Homo sapiens: one gene and its partners. Changing the gene in region 2 together with the main gene of any one other region gives a genetic interaction. Each region holds a gene or a part of one and is shown on either strand. Other genes may lie near its edges.

What was found.
Region 1: changes in PRKCD (region 2) and CDC25B together harm fitness more than expected from each alone (negative genetic interaction), as found in Homo sapiens cells (one large-scale study listed by BioGRID).
Region 3: changes in PRKCD (region 2) and CSF3R together harm fitness more than expected from each alone (negative genetic interaction), as found in Homo sapiens cells (one large-scale study listed by BioGRID).
Region 4: changes in PRKCD (region 2) and CDC25A together harm fitness more than expected from each alone (negative genetic interaction), as found in Homo sapiens cells (one large-scale study listed by BioGRID).

What each region holds. Positions count from the first base shown.
Region 1 is NC_000020.11:3,802,013-3,806,316, reverse strand, and holds the end of CDC25B (M-phase inducer phosphatase 2), read right to left. Parts: coding exon 4,217-4,304; intron 4,037-4,216; coding exon 3,941-4,036; intron 3,588-3,940; exon of another isoform or gene 3,509-3,587; intron 3,408-3,508; coding exon 3,345-3,407; intron 3,210-3,344; coding exon 3,111-3,209; intron 2,914-3,110; coding exon 2,780-2,913; intron 1,749-2,779; coding exon 1,637-1,748; intron 1,497-1,636; coding exon 1,356-1,496; 3' UTR 202-1,355; downstream 1-201. UniProt on the Homo sapiens protein: Tyrosine protein phosphatase which functions as a dosage-dependent inducer of mitotic progression. Directly dephosphorylates CDK1 and stimulates its kinase activity.
Region 2 is NC_000003.12:53,188,086-53,193,146, reverse strand, and holds the end of PRKCD (protein kinase C delta type), read right to left. Parts: intron 4,428-5,061; coding exon 4,289-4,427; intron 4,090-4,288; coding exon 3,901-4,089; intron 3,275-3,900; coding exon 3,146-3,274; intron 1,040-3,145; coding exon 881-1,039; 3' UTR 430-880; downstream 1-429.
Region 3 is NC_000001.11:36,480,107-36,484,991, reverse strand, and holds the start of CSF3R (granulocyte colony-stimulating factor receptor isoform a precursor), read left to right. Parts: upstream 1-2,078; 5' UTR 2,079-2,181; intron 2,182-3,454; 5' UTR 3,455-3,514; intron 3,515-4,885. UniProt on the Homo sapiens protein: Receptor for granulocyte colony-stimulating factor (CSF3), essential for granulocytic maturation. Plays a crucial role in the proliferation, differentiation and survival of cells along the neutrophilic lineage.
Region 4 is NC_000003.12:48,178,411-48,182,714, forward strand, and holds part of CDC25A (M-phase inducer phosphatase 1), read right to left. Parts: intron 3,387-4,304; exon of another isoform or gene 3,067-3,386; intron 2,431-3,066; coding exon 2,311-2,430; intron 1-2,310. UniProt on the Homo sapiens protein: Tyrosine protein phosphatase which functions as a dosage-dependent inducer of mitotic progression. Directly dephosphorylates CDK1 and stimulates its kinase activity. Also dephosphorylates CDK2 in complex with cyclin-E, in vitro.

The sequences.
Region 1 (4,304 bases), on a different chromosome or scaffold from region 2:
GAGGGGAAGGAGGGGTTGAATCCAAAGTCCTGGCAGGAGTGTCACCCAAGAGATGGAAGACATTGGGAGAAGAAGGGACAAGAGCATGAGGGCACCTCTCCAGCAACTCTTCCTGCCTTTGCTGACCCTGTCTCCTACCCCAATCCCGCCATTGGCGGGCTTCTGGGGTCTTGCCCAGGGCCCCACAGGACACAATGCTGGTTTCTCAACTTGCTCAGTGCTTTATTGAACCAAGGCCCTAACAGATGACTCAGCAGGGCCTTCAAGCACAGCCCTGCCCCCATCTTGAGATTCAGAATCCAGAGGGTGCTCAGTCCTTGGTTTAGCTGCTTCTGTGACATTTCCTCTTGAATAGCTCCAAACCCTAAGTGTAAATATTTTTGTCCACACAAATAGGCACACATATATTCCTGCTGCAGGCTGTCATGCTCAACAAAACGCTCCCACCTGGTTTGGGTATGCAAGGCACTGCGCATCCACGGCCATCCACGGCCATCCACCCATCCATCCAACCTTCCATCCATCCGCAACAAGACAGCAGCAAGTTCTGAGCAGTCAGGCCCCAGGGTTCACAGCAGTAGGGGCTGGGCTTCCAGCAGGCTCATGATTCAGGCCTTAACCCTTGCCCTGGGAGCCCCCAAGGATAATAACATCCCTTTCTGGGGCAACAAAACTGGGACCGAGTGGGTAACTGATATTTGACAGGGGAACCTAAACAGTCTACGGAAGTGTCCTGAGATGGGCGTAAAGTCAAACAGACCAAGCACACAGGTAACACTGAAATAGGAAAGAGTAAGAGCTTCTGTTCAGGCTGGAGGTGCTCGTATGGTGGGACAGGAAAGGGGAAAAGAGAAAGGGGCAACATGGCAGACATACCACGGTTCCTACAGAGATTAGGGGCAGCCCTGGCCCGGGAAGTACACAGGGCAGAGAGCTGACTCTCAGGCCAGGAAGGAGTTTAGCTCTGACCCATCCTCAGGGACCACGGCTCTCCCCCAGCCTCAGCTGACACACACACAAAGGAGCGTTTCAGGACACAGGAAGATGAAGGGTTAACCCTAACAAGGAAACAAGAAGCTCCTGGAGGACACAAAATACTGCCTTTAAGCTGGTATTAACCCAACTTAACTAACTCAACAGACTGGGCTCTTCCAGGGGTGGGGGGCACCAGGATATGGAAAATGATGGGATGACACAGGGGAATCTGGGCTGGGGCAGACAGGCAGGACACCCACACCATCTTTCCCATGGACAGCACCTGAGGCCTCCAGCAGGCCCTCAGCCCGGCAGGCCCATAGGGCAGCTGGCTTCAGGCCTCGAAAGGCAAGGGAGGTAGCAGGACTGGCGCAGGCCCCTCACTGGTCCTGCAGCCGGCTACAGAGCTCCCGCCGGCTCCGCTCCCCAGCCCAGCTGCGAGTCTTGAGGCGGAAGGTCTTTAGCTCATCCTTGAAGGCCTCGTGGTTCATGGGCCGGTAGTCCTGGGGTTCACAGAAGTTCTAGGGCAGGACAGGAGGGGTCAATGCAGTGGAATGGGTAAGTTTGGCAGGGACCCAACCCTCCCACCCCCCATCCCATGGCTCCAGCCTGGCCAAGCCAACCCTCACACAGAGACTGTGGCCTTCCCCACCCACGCTACCGGGTGCTGAGGGAAGAACTCCTTGTAGCCGCCTTTCAGGATATACATCTCAGGGTAGTAGAGGCTGGGGTAGTCGTTGACAGCACGGTCTCGTTCCCTGATGAAACGGCACCTGGGGCGTCATGGGCAGGGTGTGGTCAGAGTGGGGCATGCAGTGGCTTGTACATCATGGGACCTATCCCCCACGTCCCCTCCTTTGAGGGCCTTGGGGAGCCACAGAAAGCTTTAGAGCACAGGAATGTAACCACAAGAACACTTTTAGGTCACTCTGGCTACAGAAGAGGGTGGGGAGGCGGAAGGAAGGAGGTAAAATCAAGGGGATGAACTCTCCGTTTCTAGAAGGCAGTTGCACAATCTTTGTTAGAGATATCTGTGCCTGGACCAGGAAAGGAGAAGCAGGAGAGGAGACAAGTGGGCCAAATTCAAGGGATCCATTCGGGCCACTCCTGGACAAGACCTGGTGAGGATCAGTGGTGGGGAGAAGGGAGGAGGAGGACCCAAGACTGAAGCCAGTGCCCAGGCCCGGTGCCCAGGTGGAGGTGGGTGCCATATGCTGGGATGCCTGGAGAAGTTGGGAGGGCCGCAGGGATGCGACTCTGTAAGGGGCGTCTGGGTGCAGATTCCCACCACATGGGTGAGGCCAGGCTGGGGAGCCACTAGCAGTCATATGGACCAGTGGCAACCCAGGAGGAGGCAGGGGTGGGAGGACAGATGGCCAGGCAGAACAGGAATAGCGACAGAAGGAGCTCAGCCAGGGAGGCCCAGGTGCTGTGGATGCCAATGGAAGAGGTTCTAATGGAGACCTAACAGCACTGAACATGGGGAGGGTCCGTGTACTGGGGACTGACACGCGGCCCTTAGATTTCGAGAAAAGACACCGCTAGAGACTTGGAACTAAATTTTCTGAGGGTGGCAGTAATGGATGTGGGGTGGACATGAGGCTTGATAGGCAGGACAGTGAGGGAGATGGGAGGCGGGTACCATGCACAGTGAAGTGGGGCTGAGGTCAGCTCTAGGCCATCAGATGGGACAGAGGAGGACCTGGACTTGCACCCCTGGCCATCTCAATGGTGCCAGCACCTGTGAGCCTGGGCAGGGAAGGCCAGGGCAGACACTAGCTGGCTGGGCGGAGCTGGGACTCACATGCGGGGCCCACGCTCAGATGAGAATTCACAGTGGAAAATGAGGATGACTCTCTTGTCCAGGCTACAGGGCGCGATGGGGCTCTTCAGTAGGAAGCTCTCGGCGTCGCGTTCCAGGGGCAAGTTCACCGCAGTCTGTCAGAGGAGCCAGAGGTCAGGCACAGCCCCGGGTCCAGGAGTCAGGGCCCTCCCCGTGCAGTCGCTGTCCTTCTCTTAGTAGGAACCCTCCCCATGAGAGGGGGCACCCGTCCTCCACCCATTCACCCTCTTGGCAAAGCAAGGACCTAAACCAGGTGGGATCTTCAGGGCCTCTCCCCATTGCCCCATCTTACCTTGATGTGCCCGCCTTCATATTCATAGGGGTATCTGCAGTCTACAATCACAAACTTATCCACGATGTTGCTGAACTTGCCCGTCAATAGGGCCACCATCTGTAGGAGGTCATGGGGGTTGGTTCCGGCAGGTCAGGCTGGCAGCTGGCAGGTGGCCCTAGCCTGTCCCCAGGGAAGGTCAACAATGGAGCTACAGTCCCAAATCTGCCTAGAAAATGACGCAACGCTGTTTACCGTTTCTGGTGAGATGTACTTGAGGTCTTGGTGCTTTCCGTCTACTGTCTGTAGGAGGAAGGCCTGAAGGGAACGGAAGGGATGAGGGAGAGGGGAGAAAGTTAAATTGGTAAGACCAGGAGCCTCAAAGAATGAAGTTTCATTCCCAAAATCAGAGGCCACACCTGCTTTGGCCTTCAAATTCAGTTCTGGTTCCCATGGCAACTGAGAGGCACCTCTTGGGTCTGACACCCAGGGAACAACCTTCCAAGGGGAAAGAGAAATGAAAAAGGGAAGTGGAAGAGATGAACTCCACACTCTGCTCCCTACCCTCTGCCAAGCCCGAAGGTGAGGCATGAGGGGGTTCCAAGCTAGGTATGAGCTTGGAAATAAGACGGAGACTCAACAGATGCCTGGACTGACTTGAGGTGGAGTCAGGAGACAAGGAGGGCCAGAGGGAGGAGTCTATGTGAGAACAAAGGATGAAAAGATACAAAGGACAAAGAAAAGGGGGGCTCCGGGGAGAAAGGGAGGAACCCAAGCAGCCCCTGGGCTAGAGGACCCCTAGTCAGTAAGAGGTCAAGCCCCCAAGGTACCCCCTTCGCTGCTGCAGGTACCTTAGAGTAATCTCCAATCAGCTCTCGGTGGTCACTGTCCAGGAGGTTCTCGATCTCATCGTGACACAGTGATTTTGAGCGGAGGACGCGGGCTTTCTGGAAAGTGAGTCAGATGGAGGCCAGGGTCAGGGTGGGGCTGCCCCCCAGTGCTCTGGCTGGCTGGTACCCCCTTTCTCTGCCATGCCCAGGCTGCCACCTGCCCTCTGCCACAAACTTAGCCAAGGGGGTGGCTGCCCAGGTGCATGCCAAAGTGAACCCCAGGAGGAAGGCACTCACAGGTTCCTCAGCCTCCTGCTGCTCCTCAGGAGGGGTCACGCTCCGCCTCCGCTTATTCTGCACGGGCGTGTCCCTGTCCTGGGGCCGC
Region 2 (5,061 bases):
ATTATAGGTGTGAGCCACCACGCCCACCCAATACTGAGGCTTAAAATGATCAAGTGACGTGCCCACATCCTTTGGCTACTCTGTGATTTAAATCCAGATATGCTTGAAGCCTGAGCTGTATTTTCTTCCTCTCCCTTGTCCTCCTCCCTCATCTGGAGCCAGCCTCAAAGCCTCTGCTCATGTCTTCTACTTCTCTGCCCTTCCAGAGACAGCTACAGCTGGTCCCATCACCCCACAGAGACATCTGGGGCTCCCTGTCGCCACCCAGAAAAGCTGTCTGCCTTAGGCCCAGGGTCCTGGGGCCAGAGGAAACCCATAAATACAAACACATTTGCATGAAGGCCCAGCAGTTGGCTTCCGGGCCAGTGCTGCCAAAAGTGGGAGTGGCCACCACCAGCTTCCTGGGACAAACGTGTCCTGACAACCAGGTTGGTACTATTTGGTGTTTATTTAGACACACAAATAAACCTGGTGGTTCAAACAGCTTGTGCTCCTTTTTTTTTTTTTTTGTCATATATATATTTTTTTGAAAAAGATCAACATATCACCAGTCCCCCATGGTTTTTCTCTACTGAGCAATATATACAGCCTATTATATATATATATATGTCTATGTATATAATATATATTTTCAATAGATAACTACATTCAAGTAATGAAACACAGGATTTACAATTTCCCTCCGAAGGCAGAGGAAAAGCAGATTCACACACAGTTCACAGAGGAAGTACCATGAGAGCCCGGCCAGACGGCAGCCAAGGACGCTCTGGGGGCAGGGGCGGGGCCAGCAGCAGAAGTCACCACAGTCCCACTGGTGCTTATCGTGGGGAGCGGGCAGGTGTGGGTGGAGGGCAGGGCTAGCCTGATCTGTCCAGGAACCTCAATCTTCCAGGAGGTGCTCGAATTTGGGGTTCACAAAGGAGAAGCCAGCGAATGCAGACTGGTCCATGGAGTCGATGAGGTTCTTGTCGCTGTAGGAGAGGCGCGCCTTCTCGTTCAGGAACTCCTGGTCAAAGTTACTGTAGTCTCTGGGTGACTTCTACAAGCAGAGGGCAGGGGTGAGCGAACAGGACCTAGGGAATGGCCCTCCAGACACCCCAGGCTGGAGTCCCTGCAGGGCTGGGCCAGGCCAGAGCTGTCCTCACCCAGAACAGAAGACAGAGCCTCCCCTAGCAGCCTGAAAGGAGCCCCATGGGAAGGAGGCTGCCATTTCCCCAAGAGGATGAGGAAAGTGACCAGGGAGCTCTGGGCCTGGGTTAGGAGAGGTGGTAGCCTCTTGCTCAGAGACCACCGAATCACAGCCCAGGGAGGCTCACTTACCACCTGTTTTTGTGGGGACCACAAGCTAAGAATGGCTTTCACATTTTTAAATGGTTGGAAAAAAAATCAAAAGAAAAATATTTCATGACATGAAAATTAGGTGAAATTCAAATTTCACTTTCCATAAATAAAGCTTTTGTAATACACAACCATGCCCATTTGTTGACATACTGTCTATGCCTGCTTTGAGACCATCAAGCCTGAAAAGCCTAAAATATATACTATCAGGCTGTTTACAGGAGAAATTTGCTGATTCTCTGCTCCTGAGGATATGATGGGATGGTAATATAGAAAGACCGCAAGCTGGTGGCCCTTCAGCCAAACTGAACTGGCAAGTACAATCATTTCGGCTTGTACTGGGTTTTAATGGAATTTGAACCTATATTTTATTTATTTATTTTTATTTATTTATTCATTTAGAGATGGAGTCTCACTCTCTTGCCCAGGCTGGAGTGCAGTGGCACGATCTCGGCTCACTGCAACCTCCACCTCCTGGGTTCAAGCGATTCTCCTGCCTCAGCCTCCTGAGTAGCTGGGATTACAGGTGTGCACCACCGTACCCGGCTAATTTTTTTTGTATTTTTTGTAGTAGAGACGGGGTTTCACCATGTTGGCCAGGCTGGTCTCGAACTCCTGACCTCAGGTGATCTGCCTGCCTCAGCCTCCCAAAGTGCTGGTGTGGGCCACTGTGCCCGGCCTGAACTTATATTTTAAAATTGAGCAATGCAACCTAAAAATCCAGATTTCCAGCTTCTTTTGAAAACTGGCAGATTAAAGCAGCCCTGGGCCCACTTCCTGCCCACTCTTGGTGCTAAGAGCCCCCTGGACAGCCCCTGCCCCACTGACAAGGGGTACATCACACCTGCTTTGTGTTTCTTAGTGCGGAGAAGGAAATCTATCAAAAGTGAGACTGAAAGCAGGCTGTGTGATTTTCTTGCAGCTGGCCTAGCCTGTCAGTTACATGCTCAGCCAGGACACGTCTGAGTTTGAGGTCCCTGGTGTAGGGGAAGTGCTCTGTAGCCTCAAAGCACAAATGTGGGGCGCATTACACAGGCTGCCCAGTGGGAACTGTGTGCCCTGGTGGAGGAGGGGAATCAAAGGACAGAAGGGGAGTGGGAAGGAAGAACTGTGGTCACAGAGGGGCCACACAGCCCCAAATTTCTTAGTGGCCCCACCTGCCTCTGCTCTCAGGCTGGTTCCTTGGTAGCCCTGTAGATTCTGGGCCTGTGAGTGAACCAGCCCCTCTTCCACCTGGAATGCCTCCCAGCTGTCCCTTGTCTCACTTCTTCCAACGGGGCCTCTCAGACCCACCCTCTTCTCTGCCACCTGGGTTCCTGCTGACAGACCCACTCAATAGCAACGGATCATGTGTCCTGGGGCATCTCTTATACTGTCATCTCGTATCACAAATTGTCATAGGTGTGCAAGTTTCTTATCTCTCCAACTAGCTGAGAGCTCCTCCGGTTCTGGGACTGCATCTCCCACTTTGCTGTGCAGCCCAGCACTGTGCTCTGCATTCAACAGGGACTCAGGATTCCCCATATGTATTGGAAAATGGATTGAATGGAGCGATAAAGTGAGGTCTTAACTCTATTTCCCAAAACAGGGTCCTCTGCATACAGTGGGATCCACAGTCCCCAGTGTGTGCTGAATGACTGAGTCAGGAGGGAGAGGATGAGAATACAAGGGCAGCGGCTGTGACTGAACATGCTATGGAGATTGCTGGAAGAAGGGAGAGGTGGAAAGCGTGTGAATGATGCAGGAGAGAGGGAGGGCAGGAGAGGAGTAGCTCAGCCTGAAGGCAGCACAGGGCAGGATCACATACCACTTTGGGCCTGAAAGGTGGCTCCAACCTCCGCTTTTCCAGCAGAGTCCAGTTTATGGTCTTGAAGAAGGGGTGGATTTTGATGTTTCCGGTCACTCCCAGCCTCTTGGTTGGTTCCCTTTCAAAGAGCTGCAACCCAGCAGGGACCCTGGTTAGCACCCAAGGGCCATGGGAAATTGGAGCTTCAGCAAATCCCCAGCAGGCCCAGGGATGCAAAGCCAGGCTTGCCCCAGCCCCAGTCAGCCTGGGGAACGGTGGGGCTGAGGGAGGCCACTCTGGCCTGCAGTGCTCCCAGCTCCCCCGGAGATGACAGGCTCTGGGCTGGACATCTGCGACTCTGCTGGTGGAACTTTTTATTATTTACTATCTGCCTGGCCCACAGCTGAGCATCATATGTTTCTATTTTCTTCCCAACAACTCTGTGAGTCAAGTCTGCTCATAGCCCCATTTTACAGATAAGGAGACAAACTCTGAGAGGTTAAGTGACCAGCTAGTCCCAGGCAGAGCCAGCATTTGGCCTCGGGTCTGTCTCCTGACCCTGGGCCCTTAGTCACCATGTCAGGCTGATTCTATGCACAGGACTCAGACAGGAGTTCCTGGGAACATGGTGAGAGAGCAATACCCCGTATGTTAGGACTGCAGCACCACTGAGGCTGCCATTCCAGAGACAGGAAGCTCCTCACCCAAAGCCCAGTGTCTGCCAGCCCCTGCCCCAGCCCAGCCCAGACCAGCCCAGCCCAGCCCAGGGCCTCCACCTTCTCCAGGATGTCCTTGGACTCCTTGGTGATCCAGCGGGGATAATGTGGCGTGTCCACACGGATGGACTCGAAGAGTTCATCCTCATCATCACCATGGAAGGGGGACTGGCCAATGAGCATCTCGTACAGAAGGACCCCGAAAGACCACCAGTCCACAGAGAATGTGTACTTCAGGCCCTGTAGGATCTGGCGGTGGGGAGAGCAGCAGGTCAGCAGGAGCTGAGGTGCTGAGGCTGAGAGGGGCCCCTGGGCACGAAGCCTAGCCAGGCCGCCTCAGCCTATGGGCTTTGGCTTGGACATCACTGCCCTTGGGAATCCTTCCCTGGCCCACCGTGGGGAGGCAAGGTGCCTGACTGAGCGGGGGGCTGGAAGGGTATCGGCTCACCTCAGGGGCGATATAGTCAGGGGTGCCGCAGAAGGTGCTGGCCCGGCTCTCCCCGAATATGTTCTCTTTGCACATCCCAAAGTCGGCAATCTTGATGTGGCCATCCCGGTCCAGCAGCACATTGTCCAGTTTGAGGTCCCTAAGGACAGGGGACAGGTAAGAGTCAGCAGGGGACATTTCTTCTCCTTCCAACCCTGCCCCCCATGTCCTAATTTTCAGCCGTATTAGTCCAGGACTGTCCCCAAGGGTACAAGGGAATGAGAAACAGAAAAGGAAGCAGAAGGAGAAAGAGATCCTAAAAACAGGTGCTTCTTGCAAGTCCCCTACTGTGTGCTAAACGCTGGGCATACACTGCCCTACTTCCTGAAGCCCAAATGGGGCTCAAACAGGTGATGTCACTCGCCCAGGGTCCCCTAGCAGTCAGCAGCAGAAGTGACCCCCAGGTTCAGGTTTGTCTACTTCCCACAGGCAGAGACCATGTCTATATTTAGTAATTAGTCATTTGAGTATATACTTAATGCATATGGGAACTAGAAATGGCAAACAGTACAAAGTCTACCTTCCACTGAGCTCAATCATGAGGCTCTCCTTAGAGCAATTCTAGGCGTGGACAAGCATATGGCAGCATGCAGCTCGCTCCCACCTTTTTTTTTTTTTTTTTTTTTTTTTTTGAGACACAGTCTCATTCTGTCACACAGGCTGGAGTGCAGTGGCATGATCTCAGCTCACTGCAACCTCCGCCTCCCGGGTTCAAGCAATTCTCCTGCCTCAGC
Region 3 (4,885 bases), on a different chromosome or scaffold from region 2:
CTACTTGGGAGGCTGAGGCAGGAGAATCACTTGAACCTGGGAGTCAGAGGTTGCAGTGATCCAAAATCGCGCCACTGCATTCCAGCCTGGGTGACAAAGTGAGACTCTGTCTCAAAAAAAAAAAAAGAAAGAAAGAAAAAAAAGAACTAAAAGAACTGACTGGACATGGGAATGTGGAGAAAGGGTTGTAAGGAATGACTCCTGAGTCCCTGAGCTGCATGACTAGGGAGAGGAGGGGATGGTGGTTAATTCACCATGACAAGGTACGTGGGGATTAGAGACAGATTTGGTGAAGTGGGGGAAGATTCATCCAGTTGATCATTCATTCAACAAACACGCATGGAGGCCTTACTGTGTGGCAAGCAGTGTTATAGACACTGGAGATAAAGTTTTGAACAAAACAGATAAAAACTGTTGCTCTTATGGAACTTTCAGTCTAGTGGGGATTGAGACAGCCAATATCAGATGGTGAAAAGGGATTTGGGGGAGAGAGAGATAGGGAGTGGGAGGGAAGGGGCTTGCAAATTTTGAAAAGGGTGCTCAGAGAAGGCCTCAATGAGAAAGTGACATTTGAGCAAAGACCTGAAGAAGGGGAGGGACCAGCCCATGTAGCTATTTGCGGGGGAAAGAGTCCAGGCAAATGAAACAGCAAGTGCAAAGGCCCTGAGGCAAGAGACAGCATAACAAGTTCAAGAAGCAAAGAACACAGAGTAGCTGGAGCAAGGCAGCAAGGGGGAGAATAACAGGAGAGGGATCCAGGAGGTAACAGGGATACCAGGTTTTGTAGGGCCTTGTAGACCATCCAAAGGGCTTTGACTTTGACTCTGAATGAGACAGGAGCCATTGGAAAGGTTGGGACGAGGATGGGCTGATCAGACTTCTGTTTGATTGATATCGCACTGGCTGCTGAAGGAATTACAGACAGGTGCGGGAACAAGGATGAAATAGAAGCAGGAGAGCAGGCAGGGGGCTATTGCGATTATCTAGGCAATAGATGAGGGTAGCTTGGAGCTGGCTAGTATTGGTTTCAGTTATATTTATATTTTCCAAATATTATCATAAAAATATTCAAACGTAGAGCCAAGTTGAACTTTACAGTGAATACCCAGGATTCTGGTTATATTTGGAAAGAAGAGAGTCCATGGGACTCACTGAGCGAGCAGAGCCTGTGGGATATCTTGGGAGGGTTGCAGCAGGCAGTCAGGTCATTTGACTTGGAACTAGAACTACAGCCCTGGTCTGCAGCATCACACCAGACCCAGATGCCTCAAAAGGATTATATGTTAAGGACAGTCTGCTGGTCTGTTGGCACCTAACCTTTTTTGGGTTATGAATCCAATAAACTATGAGCAGTTTGAACCTTTCTCAGAAAATGCAAAGAAAATTATTTGTAGTTTTAGAAGAATCATGAATACAGACAATAAAAGACATAAAATGTAGTCTATTTCACTCAATTACAAAATATTCAGTGTTGCAGAACCATTGTGGGTAAACATTCCTAATTTTTAGTGAACATATAAAGACCCCGTGCCTCACCAAGACGTCCTCCTGTCTTGCCCCCAGAATTCCTGTTTCTCCATCTGCCTGGTCTATGGGCAATGCACAGAATACGTAATGAAGAGGGGAGCAGTGAGTATTGGGTTACACAATTCCCTGGAACCTGGAACACACCCTTCTGAGTACTGTGAAGATGTGGTCCCCAAGGCTAGAGCTGAAAAGAGGCTTAGGGCCGGGTGAGCCTTCCAGCCAGGGCCTGCCTCCAAGTGATGCTCCCCCAGGGCAGGGGGCATAAGGATGGCACCCAGCCAGGTGGGAGCCTGGGCCCTGCCCAGCCTCAAAGCTTTGAGCTCAGGAAATCCGGAGGCAGGGGAGGGGGACATCGTTGCCACATTCCCCAGCCCTTTAAGACCCCCAAGGCAGGAAGGCTGCCCGGGCCTCACCAGCTTCCCTCACAGGCTCCTTCCTGGGAGGAAGGGGCTGCCTGTGCCCTCGAAGGCGCAAGGGAGGGCAGGAGGGAGGCTCGGAAGGTGTTGCAATCCCCAGCCCCCGGGCCTGTCAGAGGCTGAGCCATTAACGACAGAGCTCGGGGAGAGAAGCTGGACTGCAGCTGGTTTCAGGAACTTCTCTTGACGAGAAGAGAGACCAAGGAGGCCAAGCAGGGGCTGGGCCAGAGGTGCCAACGTGAGTAGGGGATCCCTAGAGAGGGGCTGAGCCTTGGGCTTGATGGAGAGCTGGAATCCTGGGGCCACTCCCCACAGCTCTGCCAAGTGTTCATGTCCGGGGTCCTAGGCCTGGGGCCCGGGATTCGTCCTTTGGAACCCCAGCCCTGGACACTGAGTCTCTTTTCACAGGATGCCCCTACTTTTGGGGGTATTGCACCAGGGAAGTCACTCACAGCCAAGTATCTCCTTGGGGACACTGAGCTGGGCTGGGGACAGGCATAATCATTCTCCCCTCCCCATGCCTCTGTCTCTCAGGACGTGTGTGTCTGTGAGTTCCAGCCGCGCAACCCCTCCCCGTCTGGGTCTCTATTTCACTCTCTGTTTCCATCTTTCCTCCTCAGCTTCTCTCTGGCTTGCTATCTCTCTGAGTTTCTCTGTCTCGCATATTTCCTGCTATCTCTTGAATCTTAAACTCTCGGTAACAGACGCTTCCCGGGCTCCAGGCCTCCGAGTGCCCCCCCCCCGCCCACTCTCTGGGTCGGCGTACATTGGGCCCTTTTTCTCTGTCTCTCGATATCTCTCTGGCCTCAATCGTCCTCTTGGCGAGTCTCTCTGTCGTTTCAGTCTGTGTGGATTTCAGTCACCGCCTCACTCTGTCACTCTTCCTGTTGCTCTCTCTTTTTCTTTATCTGCAGCATATCTGGAAATGCCTCTCCCCTCTGTTTATTCCCAGCCCCCTCCTCCCTCCCCACCCTTCCCACAGAAAGAATCTCGAGGTGAGAGTAGAAACAGCAAGGGAGCGAGGGGTGTGAAGTGGGGAAGAGAGTGTGAGGGGAGAGGGCTGAGCGTGATGAGGGAGAAACAGAAAGAGGGAATGTGAAGGCAGCCAGCCCAGGAGACATCGAGCTGTGCTGGGCCACAGGAGTGAGCACCTGCAGAGCCCAGCAGAGATGGCCGCAGTGACAGGAGGGCCAGGGGGCCCAGGAGTTAGGAGGAGAGGATCCAGAAAGGGGGCTTTGGAACTGCGCAGTGTGGCACAGACAAAAGCAAGGTGGCAGTCCTGGGAGGTGTGACCACACAGGCTGTGAGGGAGGCAGGGGTGAGGGGAAAACTGAACTGTGCTGGATTCTGTGAGCTGCTGACCTGCTATTTATGGCTCGTGAAAATAACCTATGGTTGCTGAGTGCCAACTCCATGCAAGGCACAGGGCTAAATGCCTTTACCAAAATAATCTCATTTCATCCTCACAACAACGCTGAGGAGTGAGTGCTAATGTTATTTCTTTCCCACAGATGGGGAAACTGAGGCTCGGCTCGGAAAGGTGAAGTAACTTGTCCAAGATCACAAAGCTGGTAAGTGGCGGAGCTGGAGATCAAGTCAGGTGACCTGAATCTGAGCTGGGCTCCAAACCTCTCTGCATATCGGCCCCCCAGAGAGTGAGACCATGCTCCAACAGGTCCTAGGCCCACTTAACCAGGCTGGGGGACGTCCAGGGCTGCAGTGGAGGACCAGAGACTGAGGCCAAGCAGGCCAACACCCAGCACCCAGGGGAAGGATGCCGGGGCCTCTTGGGGTTAGGTTGTCTACTCTGGACAGGAGCCAGTGGAGGCGGATAGGGTGGTACTGCACGGGGCATAGGCTGGGCCTGAAGCTGACCCTGGCTAGGGCAACAGGGCTGGGATAGGATCAAAAGCACATGGAGATGAAAACCAGTGTCCCAAAATCTGGGCCTTGGAGGCTAAATCTTCCCCAACCAGTGTTGCGGGGGGATAATCAAACTGGTATGCTATAGTAAGAAGGTTACCAACCACCGATGGGTAGACAGATGCTCGGGATACTTGTACAGGTTTCTCACTGCACAAAACTGAGGAGTAACTGGAGCCGAAATCCAGGCTGTTCCCTAGTTGCCAGGTCCTAGTGTGGTGCTGCATCCATCCAGAGGAAGGGGTGCTTTCTTTCTGATTTGCACAAAGGAGACTTACGGGCTAGCAGTCACTGGGTATTCCGATACTGCAATATATACATGGATAGACTGGGGGTTTGGGTAAGACCCCTGTGAGCAGTAACAACCTTGGGTATCTGGGCAGTTCTTATCCACACCTCTGTCTGGGAGGAAGAGAAAAGGATTCTCCTACCTTTCTCCCTGCTGAGCACGAGGGATCTGCTGGGACACCACCTGCGTGTATGTGTCCAGATATGTACGTGCAAGCTGACCAGCGATTCCCACTGATCTGCCACCAAGAGCACCAACTCGTGCTGGAGGATCAGGTGTTGGCTCCAAGACCCCAATGGGAGCAGGGTGAAGATGAGGCTGGACACCCACCCAAGTGGTAGAAACCTCTGCATACTTCCTAAGACTGGAGCCAAGGCACCCTCCATCCAGGTGCTATGGCCGTGACCTCATGATGCCTGACCCCAGAAGGCCACCAGAGGTCTGTGCCCAAAATTGGGGGCACACTGGACCCTTCGGGTGCCCCACTTGATATTCTCTCAGCCCACATGGCTGAGGCAGCCAGCTTCCTGCAGGCATAACCTGACAGCCCCTTGCCTCAGCTGCTCCATAGAGTTCTCCCTTTCTTCCAGGGAGTGTCCCTGACAACACTGGCATGGCTTCCCCAGGAGAACCTGCCTAGTACTCATGCATGCCCAACCTGGATGTGCCAGGGAATGAACACCCCAAGAGGCATCCCTTGACCAATGGGGGGCAGGAGTCAGTGGGTAAA
Region 4 (4,304 bases), 5.0 Mb from region 2:
ATAACTCCAGTTCTGACAGGGGGGAATAAAGGGTAACTTCCTTCTATAAAATCTATCCTCGTTCTTTAGACTTGGGATTTAAATGCTCAGTTTTTAAACGAGGAATTACTGTGTGCCAGATACTACGATATAATCTTTATACATATAATCCAATAGAAGCCTCACAATACACTAAAGGTAGCTAATCCTTTCCTTTTTCTTTAGCAAATCAGGAAACTGGTGCTTAAGAGGTTACCAAGATTATACACCTCATCTGTTTGACTCCAAAATCCAAACTCTTCTCACCACACTATCTCCCTAGGAGAAAACCATTCCTGGAATTAAAATGGCGGTACCTCATTAGCCAACCTATAGTCATACTTTTTTTGGGAAACCTCTAAACATGGAATATAGAAAATTTAGAAAAACTGCTCATAAATCCACACCTGAAGATAAATCCTACCAATACAAACACTGCTAATACTGAATTATTTATTTTCTAGGCACTTTCAAATCCAGAAAAAAAAGTTTAGAGTTATTTTTTTCACAGTAGCAGGGTAGTCCCAATGTTATGACCTACAAGTAATCCTTAAAATCCAAATCTCTTTGGGGTATGAATCTGTTGTTAGTTAAGTGGCCCTCTGATTTTCTGAGTGGATCATGCACCAAGGAATCCTCTCTGCAGCTGGCCTATTCTGGTTCTGGCATTAGCTTTGCTTCACAATATAAAACAAGTTCTGAGCAGTCTCTAGTCCTCCCCAAGTGCACACTCTGGGAAATGGCAAATTTTTTTAGCCTAGGGGTAGATAACTTTATTATGGGGCAGTACCTTTATCACGAAAGCTCACACTATATCACACCAACATTTGTGAGGTATGTTCTGGGATTCCTAGGTGCAGATGTGATACAGGCTCTAGTCGCTAAGCACACACCAAATATATTGTTTCTGATACCCAACTCTTAAAGCATTACTGTGTACTTGGGAATTTAGAGATTGTTTATTGAGACAGGGATTCATTGTCCAGGCTGGAGTACAGTGGTCTGATCATAGCTCACTGCAGCCTCGAATTCTTGGGCTCAAGCAATCCTCCCACTTCAGCCTCCCGACTAATTGGGACTATAGGAACAAGCCACCACACTCAGCTTATTTTTTAACTTTGTACAGATAGGGTCTCACTATGTTACCCAGGCTGTCTTGAACTCCTGACCTCATGTGATCCTCCCACCTCGGCCTCCCAAAGTGCTGGGATTACAGCCATGAGCCACCACACCCAGCCAGAGATCATTAAATCCTGGTTTCCTACTTATGTATATCCTTTGGTAAATCATCCAAACCTCTCTAGTGGTACTTTCCTAATCTGTTCAAGTGGATTAACTCCACTTCACAAGACAAGAACATATAAAAGTGCTTTGTGCAAATGATAGACAGAGTAACAATACTGGCTGAACCTCAGAACACAAAGCAGATTGGAAAGGTATATTTTCAGATTTAAGATCCTAGGTAAACCTGGAAGCCAAATGTGGTCATCTTGCTCAAGTTGGGCCTCTCCAATCTATAGATGCTATCAGTTAATCCAATTCAGACCAACAGCAGGAAACTTTGGAAGTAATGACAGTCCCTGTCTGGCAAATACATAGCCCTGAAACGAGTGACCCCAAAACTGCCCAGCAGCCTGAGCATTCACTGTAATCCATAATAGTTCTTTAAAAAAATTAAAAATAAAAAAAATAGAGATGTGGTCTCACTATGCTGCCCAGGACTCAAGCGATCCTCCTGTCTCAGTTTTCCAAAGTGCTGAGATTATAGGCATGAGCCATGGCACCTGGCCCATAACTGTTCTTAACAAACCACCTTTGGAAGAAGTCAAGTGCTCTCTCTCCAGTTCCTTGAGAAGCACTTAGAATGCATAGTAAAGACCAAGTTTTAAGTAAGAGATCTAGTGTTACGGCTCTTTTAAAATTTGTCTCGCAGGCTTTCCGGTTTTTGCCAGAAAGCCCTTAAAAAAAAAAAAAGAAAAAAAGAAAAAAATAGGAAGAGATATAATCCCACCATACATACATTTAGGATGACCCAGGATTTCCCAGATTAACAAGGTCGATTATTCCTTGCACAACTCCAATATTTCAAACACCATCTCCCACTCTTACTACCGCCTGTCTGTTCTCCAGACACAGCAAAACCACCAAGAATGCTTGACAGTCTAATTTCAAAAGACAAAGTCAAGGTAAAAACAGCTAGTGCTACTGTAGTGCCTTCAATTCTGGATGAAAGAAGGTGTTTTAATCCTTTCTTCCTGTCAGGAATTCCCCTATGAAAGCCAGAGCACATACCATCCGAGCTGGGGCAGAGTTCTGCCTCTGTGTGAAGAGATCTTTACCCTCCTGGAGTCCATGAGAGTGCAGGCAGCCACGAGATACAGGTCTTACTGGCTTCTTAAACTCAAAGGCTTCCTGCAAGACATAGTTGAGACATCTACTGTCCATGAAAACCAACTCAGGCCTCAGCTTGGGTGAAAGAGGCAAGAAAGTGGGCACTGATCACCTTTCTGCCTCCAAATTAAAGTTTCACCTAATTCCAACAATAGATCTGCGTAACTAAGAATTTCCAAGGCTCTGTCAACAGCTAACTTCTAAAGTAACATCTTTTTCTTGTCATACTGTATTTCCTAACACAAGTATCTGCCAAATATACAAAACACGATGAATAAGCTAAATCACAAACTTTCTGAAATCTAAAGCAAAAATAAATAAAATCTAATATAATTGCCTGTGAATAGTTGTCAAAATTTTCCATCTAGGTCCATCTGTTTCAGGGCTTCATATTTTCCACCTCTTCCTACCAACTGGAGATAATTTTTTCTACTTATAATTATTCTATTCTATACTAAAAGCAATGAAAAAAAAAAAAGCCCTACTGGTTTACTCAACGTGGACGATTCTTACAAGCATAATGTTTTTTAAAGCCAGATATGATAGAATACATATCGTATGATTCCACTTTATGGAATGAAAACACTCACAGGTCCCTTGCCCTAAAATATTCACTTAAGAACTCATAATTAAGTATTAAAAGCAGTAATGGCTAGCACTGGCGTGGGTGGCTGAGTTCCCCGTTGCCCTTGGTCTCGGGGTCGCGGTCGGCACTGAGGCTGCAGCTATCATGGTGAACTTACTTCAGATTGTGCGGGACCACTGGGTTCATGTTCTTGTCCCTATGGGATTTGTCACTGGATGTTATTTAGACAGAAAGAGTGATGAACGGCTAACTACCTTCCGGAACAAGAGCATGTTATTTAAAAGGGTATTGCGACCCAATAAAGAAGTTACCTGGAAGTAAAGACTGGCTGAATTATAGAATGTTCACATTTTAAAGTTCTGAGAGAAATAAAACCATGAAGAATCAAAAAAAAAAAAAAAGCAGTAATGGCTAATATTACAGTGATTTCTATGCCAACACAGTACTAAGTACTTTCTGTGCATTAACTTTTTAACCATCAAATACAACCTGATTGTCCCGATTTTACAGGTGAGAAAACTAGACCTTGCAGGTTAAGGAATGTGCCCAAAATATTGAAGTAAAACAGGACAACTCCAGAGTGAGAGCTCTTTAACCACCATCTATGCTGTTTTCCCTTTAAAACAAAGCTCCAGGCAAGCAACCCTGAGAAGCTATTTCGGGGGAAAACCAGGCATCAGTACAGCTTTGCCCTGGTAAAAAGCACTAGAGGCTGATACACTGTTCCAAGCACTCAAGGCTGGAACTCATTTCCATATTCTTTCTCATGACACTTCCCAGGTTGATAAAGAAATCATCAGGAGAGTTCATGGAGGCAGTGGGTTTCACACTAAACCTGAAGATTGTAAGGACAAGGATTATGAACTGTGGCATTTCAGCAGGAATGGAAAAGGGGAGAAAGTAAATATATAGAAATACAGTAGAGAGAAGGCTGAAAAAATTACAACTGTTTTGGATGCCTACTCTGTGCAATGTCTAAAAGAACAAAAAAGCCAGGCTCATTCAGGGTAGATAACCAGAAATTCACCTTCCAAGCCACCATTTCAGTTACTCTGAGATTCCCTAGAACTTGTTGACCCCGTTCTTACAAATACTGCCAAAGAGCCTTTTCCTAAGCTTACAATTCATTTCAGGGTCAGAGCAAAGAGGCAAGGACAGCCTGGGCAGAGCCTTCCAGACAAACACTATTTGTACATGTAATTACTCCTGTGAGCTACAATCTGAGCAACTCCCGCCTGTCAGGCACCATTTTCAATACTTCATACATAATCTTACTTATTGCCACAACATCCCTAAAAGGTATTACTAC